Linked DNA regions of Homo sapiens: region 2 is reported to be linked to region 1. Evidence: microRNA targets listed by miRTarBase, many of them from high-throughput screens and not tested one by one. Region 1 holds a microRNA gene; the other region holds the end of a gene's coding sequence.
Evidence for each region. Region 1 holds the annotated microRNA hsa-miR-6739-3p (AUUGUUCUGUCUUUCUCCCAG, at 1,797-1,817, shown strand). A microRNA usually pairs through its seed, bases 2 to 8, with sites in the 3' UTR of a target mRNA and lowers its output. Matches are read on the target gene's strand: a 7mer-m8 pairs with bases 2 to 8, a 7mer-A1 pairs with bases 2 to 7 and ends in A, and an 8mer does both.

Region 1 (3,414 bases):
TCTGTATTGCGTAATTTGACTGGCACAGTTTATTAGGTTCTGTTCAGTGTTTTCCGTCAACAAGATGTTTATTGTGTGAGTAAACAAGTTAAGCCCTGTGACAAGCTGAATAAGAATAGTCTCTCCTCAGCAGCTTATAGTAAACAAGGGTAGTAATCCTTACATTAGTGGCTAGACTATCAAACGAAATATATAACATGTAAGAACACTAAAGACAGAATTACTGTGGCATAGAGATAGTTAGAATTGCTTCAGCCTAAGAGATGAATTAGGTAATGCAAGGAGGTGAATATGTTGGCTTGCAATATGAACAAGGCAGAGAGCTGGGAGAGTAAGATGTAAGTTGCTAAGGAGGGATGTGTACTTGAGTTTGGAAACCATAAAGGGAAATCATAGGTAATGCTAGAGTCACTGATCTTAGGGAGCCTTGAATAACGTGATGACTAAGGTAATCTTTATTTGGTGGACTATGGAATTAATTGACAGATTTTAAATAGAAGAATGACATGATCAGAGCTATAATTTATGTTTTAAGAGTGGTCCAAGGCTGCACGCGGTGGCTCATGCCTGTAATCTCAGCACTTTGGGAGGCCAAGCCGAGTGGATTGCTTGAGTTCAGGAGTTCAAGACCAGCCTGGCCAACATGGTGAAACCCCCTCTCTACTAAAAATACAAAAATTAGCCAGGCGTGGTGGTACGCACCTGTAATCCCAGCTGCTCGGGAGGCTGAGGCAGGAGAATCGCTCGAACCCGGGAAGCAGCGGTTACAGTGAGCTGAGATTGTGCCACTACACTCCAGCCTGGGCAACAGAGCAAGACTCCATCTCAAAAAAAAAGAGTGGTCCAAAAGTGGGAATAAACTAGCAATGGAGATGGCAACTTAGAAGATTAAGTGGGCGGGTACCATGGCTCACACCTGTAATCCCAGCACTTTTGGAGGCCAAGGCAGGCAGATCACCTAAGGTCAGGAGTTTGAGACCAGCCTGACCAACATGGAGAAAGCCCATCTCTACTAAAAATACAAAATTAGCTGGGCGTGGTGGTGCATGCCTGTAATCCCAGCTACTGGGGAGGCTGAGGCAGGAGAATCACTTGAACCAGGGAGGTGGAGGTTGTGGTGAGCCGAGATCGCACTGTTGCACTCCAGCCTGGGCAACAAGAATGAAACTTCATCTCAAAAAAAAAAAAAAAAAGATTAACTAGTAGTACAGGTAAGGAATAATGAGAGCTGGGGGTGAGGACTGGGGTGGTAAAGTCTTTTTAGTCTAATAATATTCAAGATCTACTTTGCTCAGAAGAGACAAGGGAAAACTGGGAAATTGATTTTGTACCACAGGTCACACATTTGCTTTCATCATACAAGGTTATGCTTTTTCTCTCAAATGAGTTGTACATATTATGTAGCATCTATTTACTTCTAAAAAATTGAGGAATGGAGGGCCGGATGCGGTGGCTCATGCCTGTAATCCCAGCACTTTGGGAGGCCGAGGCAGACAGATCACTTGAGGTCCAGAGTTTGAGACCAGCCTGGCCAACATGGCAAAACGCCATCTCTACTAAAAATACAAAAAATTAGCCGGGCATGGTGGCAGGCGCCTGTGATCCCAACTACTCAGGAGGCTGAGGCAGGACAGTTGCTTGAACCCGGGGGACGGAGGTTGCAGTGAGCCGAGATCACGCCATCGCACTCCATCCTGGGTGACAGAGTGAGACTCCATCTCAAAAAAAAAAAATTGAGGAATGAATGTGGGAAAGAGAAAGAACAAGTAAAAGGAATTTTCATTTTCCAGCCCCTAATTGTTCTGTCTTTCTCCCAGTGTCTCCTTTCCTCTTGGGCCGGGCACTTTGGGCTGCCAGTCGGTTCACTGTTGCTATGTCCCCTGAACTGATCCAGCAGTTCCTACAGGCAACAGTTAGTGGTCTTCACGAGACACAGCCCCCATCAGTTCGAATTTCTGCAGTGAGAGCCATCTGGGGGTGAGTATGCTACCCTAGCGTGATAATTAAGGGAAAGTTGCTCAGGTTAGATATAACAAATCACAGTTTTCCAGTGTATTATGTTGCTTGGAAATCCCTGCTAATGATATCCTTCAGGGTGAATGTTGGAAGGACAGGGAAAGAAACCATGCTAGAGACATGGCTTTTGTGAGTCCAGAAGATGTCCTGTTCCTTTCTGCTCCTCTTCCTCTTTAAATTCGCTCCAGTTCTGGAATCATCTAGGCAACTCCCTTTCTCTCAATGGTGAAGAACCTGAGGTTTGGAGAGAAAAATGTTTTGCACAGGGTTGCACAATTGATGAATGATAGAAGCAGGATTAGAGTCCACATCATTTTGTTGGTTGATTATATTAGAAACCAAATCTGGGATAATGTGACCTAGAAACACTGCTTATTTTTTCCCAGTTTTACCTATCTTTTTTAAGGCTAGTGTTACTAATGGATCAAAAGTCATTTATTTATATTCCTACGCAGACTAGAAGGACCATTGTTGTTTTAAGGAATATCTTAGGCTCAAACTTAAACATCTCAACTGAATCCTATAACTACCAACACAAAATTTATTTTCCATGTGCCTGCCCTGTCTTATCTTTTGAGGCAGAGGAGTATCTTTTGAGATGCCGTGTGTTATATGTCATTAGAAAGCATTCAAGAACTGCCTGTTTTAATTAAATGGTTAATGTTATGACCATAAACACCGTCCCATCTTTTTCTGCTTCAATCTAGGTGAAGCAGATCTTTGGCTCTAAAATAATTAGAAGTATCATCTTAAGAGGCAAACTAAGTATAGCTTTTTCAGAAAGCTCTAACACCATTTTAAATGTCTGAGAAGAGAGAGCCCTAAGCTGCTTAAGGCATGAATGTTATTTTAAGGGTTTTTCTGAGTTTGTACCTGTGGTCACTGCCTGTTTAGCTTCTGACCTTAGTGAAACTTGATTTCATTGGAGAATTATCCACTTTGTGTTGTGATTTTATGGAAATGTTTGCAGCTGCAAGCTGTGAGAGGAGTTTGGTATGAATGTGAAAGTACTTTGGGTAAAATAAGCCCATTACTTTCCAGAGTGTTTTAGGTAGACAGCAGTACCTATCAGGCATACTTACCAACATTGATTCTCTCTGGGGGAGATTAGAGTACAAAGAACTTTCATTCTCTGTTATATATATAAAATATTTTGTTTGTTTGTTTGTTTCAACAAGTTTATATTACTTTTATAATCAGAAGAACTGTGAAGAAAACTTTTATTTTTAATGTTCATATCTCTTGGACCACATGGGTAGTGGTTTAATAGTTTTCTTGAGAGATGTAACAGATATCTCTGTAGGATGACAAAAGCTGTGGATATGTGGGCCAGAGAAATGGACACTCATATATGTTTACAAAATTTTATATTCATTGTCAAACACTGGATTCCTTGAA
Region 2 (3,414 bases), not on the chromosome of region 1:
GAAACGGGCTTTGAATAAAGGCCTGGAGATGTCATCATATGGTGTGTTTGAAAAAGTGAATAATAGAGTATAGCAAAGAATAGGGTAGCTAGAGGAGTACTTTCTTGATGGGGGCTAAAGTGTGAGACTTGCTAAGCAGATAGTTGAAACAAAGAGTGTCCTACTCTCTTTGTTACAATCATTTGGGTCTAGATTTTCTGTTTTTATAATGGGGCTTTGTGTAAAATATTCCCTTAAAAGAAAAGGAGACAGCTACTTTAAAAATAAGTTTAAAAACAGTTGTTCTTAGAATGTAATATGCCTTATGGACCTACGAGAGTAGCTTTTAGCAGGAAGATCTTATGTGCTTAAATTTTGTTCATGTAAGAGCTGTCTTTTATAGCATGTAATCTAAGTTTACTCCATCTTACAGGTAAAGGCAAACTCAGTAAAGCAGGAGTTTGAAAAACAAGATGAATTAAAGCGATCTGCCATGAGAGCAGTAGCAGCACTGCTAACCATTCCAGAAGCAGAGAAGAGTCCACTGATGAGTGAATTCCAGTCACAGATCAGTTCTAACCCTGAGCTGGCGGCTATCTTTGAAAGTATCCAGAAAGATTCATCATCTACTAACTTGGAATCAATGGACACTAGTTAGATGTTTGTTCACCATGGGGACCATTACATATGACCATACAATGCACTGAATTGACAGGTTAATCATAAGACATGGAAAGAGAAGTGTCTAAAAGCTTCAAAATGTTCCACTTTTTTTTCCTTCATGGAGACTGTTTGTTTGGCTTTCTTCCATTGTTGTTTTTGTAGCATTTATTTCAGAAATGTGTATTTCCATAATCCAGAGGTTGTAAAACCACTAGTGTTTTAGTGGTTACAGCAACATTTGAAATGGAAACTAAAAGTTAGGATTTTATGGAGTATGGAGATAGGGTCCAGTATCTATTTACCCTGTAATGTTTAGGATTAAAATGTTAAAATTTTGTGACCATGAATTTCTTTCTTTTATAAATTTTCTCATTTAAAAATCAAAAATCTTGCAAAACAAAAACCATGTTTCTTTTTCTTGTATAACTTTTTGTTTTCAGCAACATAAATTGATTTTTAGCTGGCAGACAAGAATATCCATATAAGATTTGTTAACCATTTCAGAGAGTTTGGCAATTTTTAAAAGATAATAAGGTATCATTTTTAAGTATGAAAATTAACAATATCCCTGTTGCGCACACTAATTTTGCATGAGTAAGTTTACAAATATGTATCGTCTGTAAAGCAGCATGTGCAGATTATTCATAATATAGAAGTTAAAATAAGTATTAGTGCAATTTTCAGATATTTATTTTTGCACAGAAAACACATTATCTGGAGAGAAAGAAAGGAGAATTTTTGAGACTTGGGTTTTCTTAATGCCAGTGTGAATTTGCAGATGTTTTCAGAAAATCAAGTCACAGTAACAATTTGCCACTTTTTTCTATTATAAATCTTCTTACTTAAATTTTGAATATTTAGTTTTTCTCAGTTACCCATTTGTGTGTGTGTGATTCCACTTAGAAATTCTTAAAACCAGATTTTTCTTTCATTCCGTTTGGATGTCTACATTCCTTATCAAAGGATATAAATACTGTGTATGCTTTTGAATTTTATTTTTAGGAAAATTCTGAAGCCAGCTATCACAGGTTTGTTAGCTAATAATAGTATTTTCTTTTAGTTGAGTTAGGTTTTTCCCCATCTCCTGTAGAGCGAATTTACATATTGTATTGGGTAAGTGTTCACTACTTTTCCTGATTAAGGGATCTGTGCTGGGGAACAAAGCTTTTGCAGTACCTTATATTGTAGTTAAAATTTTATTTAACATATCCTTCAGTGAGCTCATTTCACACTGTAGCCTCTTCCTTAAAATTTGTGGTGCTCCTGTAACAGTAAGAACTAATTCTGAAATAAAAGACATCTCCTAATGCTGTGCAAACATAGTTTACATGTATTGAAGGAGGCAGTTGTTAAATTGAGTGACCAATTTAAGCAATCAGATATTTGAAAACTGCACCCTTTAGTTTTGAAACTGTGAATTAGAAACACTTTTCCTGCTGTATTACTACCTGCTTTAACATCCAAATATACAGTGATTTTAAATGATAACATACTGTGGTTATTAGATTAACAGCTTGATTTTGAATGTTCAGATGATAATGCAGAAGACATCACTTCTAGTAAGGATTTTGACTAGTGCATTGATGTTGAAGTTGGTGCCATTTCAAAATGTGGCAGGTGATAATCTTTTACCATAATTTGCATAAAACTGTAATAGAAGTTTATTTTGAGATGTTAGTATATTATGTACTATGCATTTCTGTGGTATAGATGTTGTGGATATATTTAAGTATTTGGTTACATGGTTTTACAATAAATTACAATACTGCAGGCTCTAGGACTGAACAGGAGACTGACATGCATATGTTGTGTGAATGTCTTAGTTGGGTAAAGTTAAATCCAAATACTTCAACTGGCTTTTTCTTCAGTTTGTTTGTTTTTAACTTTCAAGATGCATGTTTTGTTTTGTTTTGCTTTGTTTTTGTCTCTTAAGCCAATTCATTTTTCTAACAGTTGAAATTCTTTTAGTACTAAAGAAATAGATACTGCTCTTTTATGGCTTTAGTGTTTATATACCTGTTTATATGCATACATTAACAAAATTAGTAACAGCAGTGCTTAGAATTTCAATGCTGTGTCATACTGATGATTAACTCCATACTCCTAGTGGTGATGTGGTCCAGATACTGGAATGGAAGTGGCAGGATGTGGAGTCCAGACATAGTCTACCACTCATGCTACTTACTAGTAATATTAAGGTGTTAAACTTAGGAATTTGTCACATGTAGGTTCCTGAGGAGATCTAAAAGTTAATACAAAACCAAGCTGTTTACTGATTTTCATGAGAACATTTAAGTTAGTTTAGGTCTACCTGATTTATTTTAAAAGAAGGCAGAGGGCTGGACGCAGTGGCTTACGCCTGTAATCCCAGCACTTTGGGAGGCCGAGGCGGGCGGATCACGAGGTCAGGAGATCGAGACTATCCTGGCTAACACTGTGAAAACCCATCTCTACTGAAAATACAAAAAATTAGCTGGGCGTGGTGGCAGACGCCTGTAGTCCTAGCTGCTACAGCTGAGGCAGGAGAATGGCGTGAACCCAGGAGGCGGAGCTGGCAGTGAGCCGAGATCACGCCACTGCACTCTGGCCTGGGCAACAGAGCGAGAGTCTGTCTCAAAAAAAAAAAAAAAAAAAAGGCAGGAAGGAAATTTGGTATGGCAGGGCCTAACCTAAAAGGTTATTTATAAAATCAATAGCACTGAATGATAATTTTTTTAATGACAGTCATGTATTTTATTAATGATATCTGAAAGCTGCTTAACCATTAGGAAT

Region 2: miRTarBase lists CAND1 as a target of hsa-miR-6739-3p. Seed matches in the 3' UTR shown: 7mer-A1 at 1,799-1,805.

The regions. Positions count from the first base shown.
Region 1 is chr1:201,861,631-201,865,044 of GRCh38, forward strand. It overlaps MIR6739 (microRNA 6739), which reads left to right and starts at 1,743; the gene lies at 1,743-1,817. It overlaps IPO9 (importin 9), which reads left to right. Exons shown (of 24, transcript NM_018085.5): 14 at 1,818-1,977.
Region 2 is chr12:67,312,194-67,315,607 of GRCh38, forward strand. CAND1 (cullin associated and neddylation dissociated 1) reads left to right here. Exons shown (of 15, transcript NM_018448.5): 15 at 413-3,414. The coding sequence ends at 637. Among named protein-coding and RNA genes, the nearest start is that of CAND1, 45 kb to the left of the region's middle.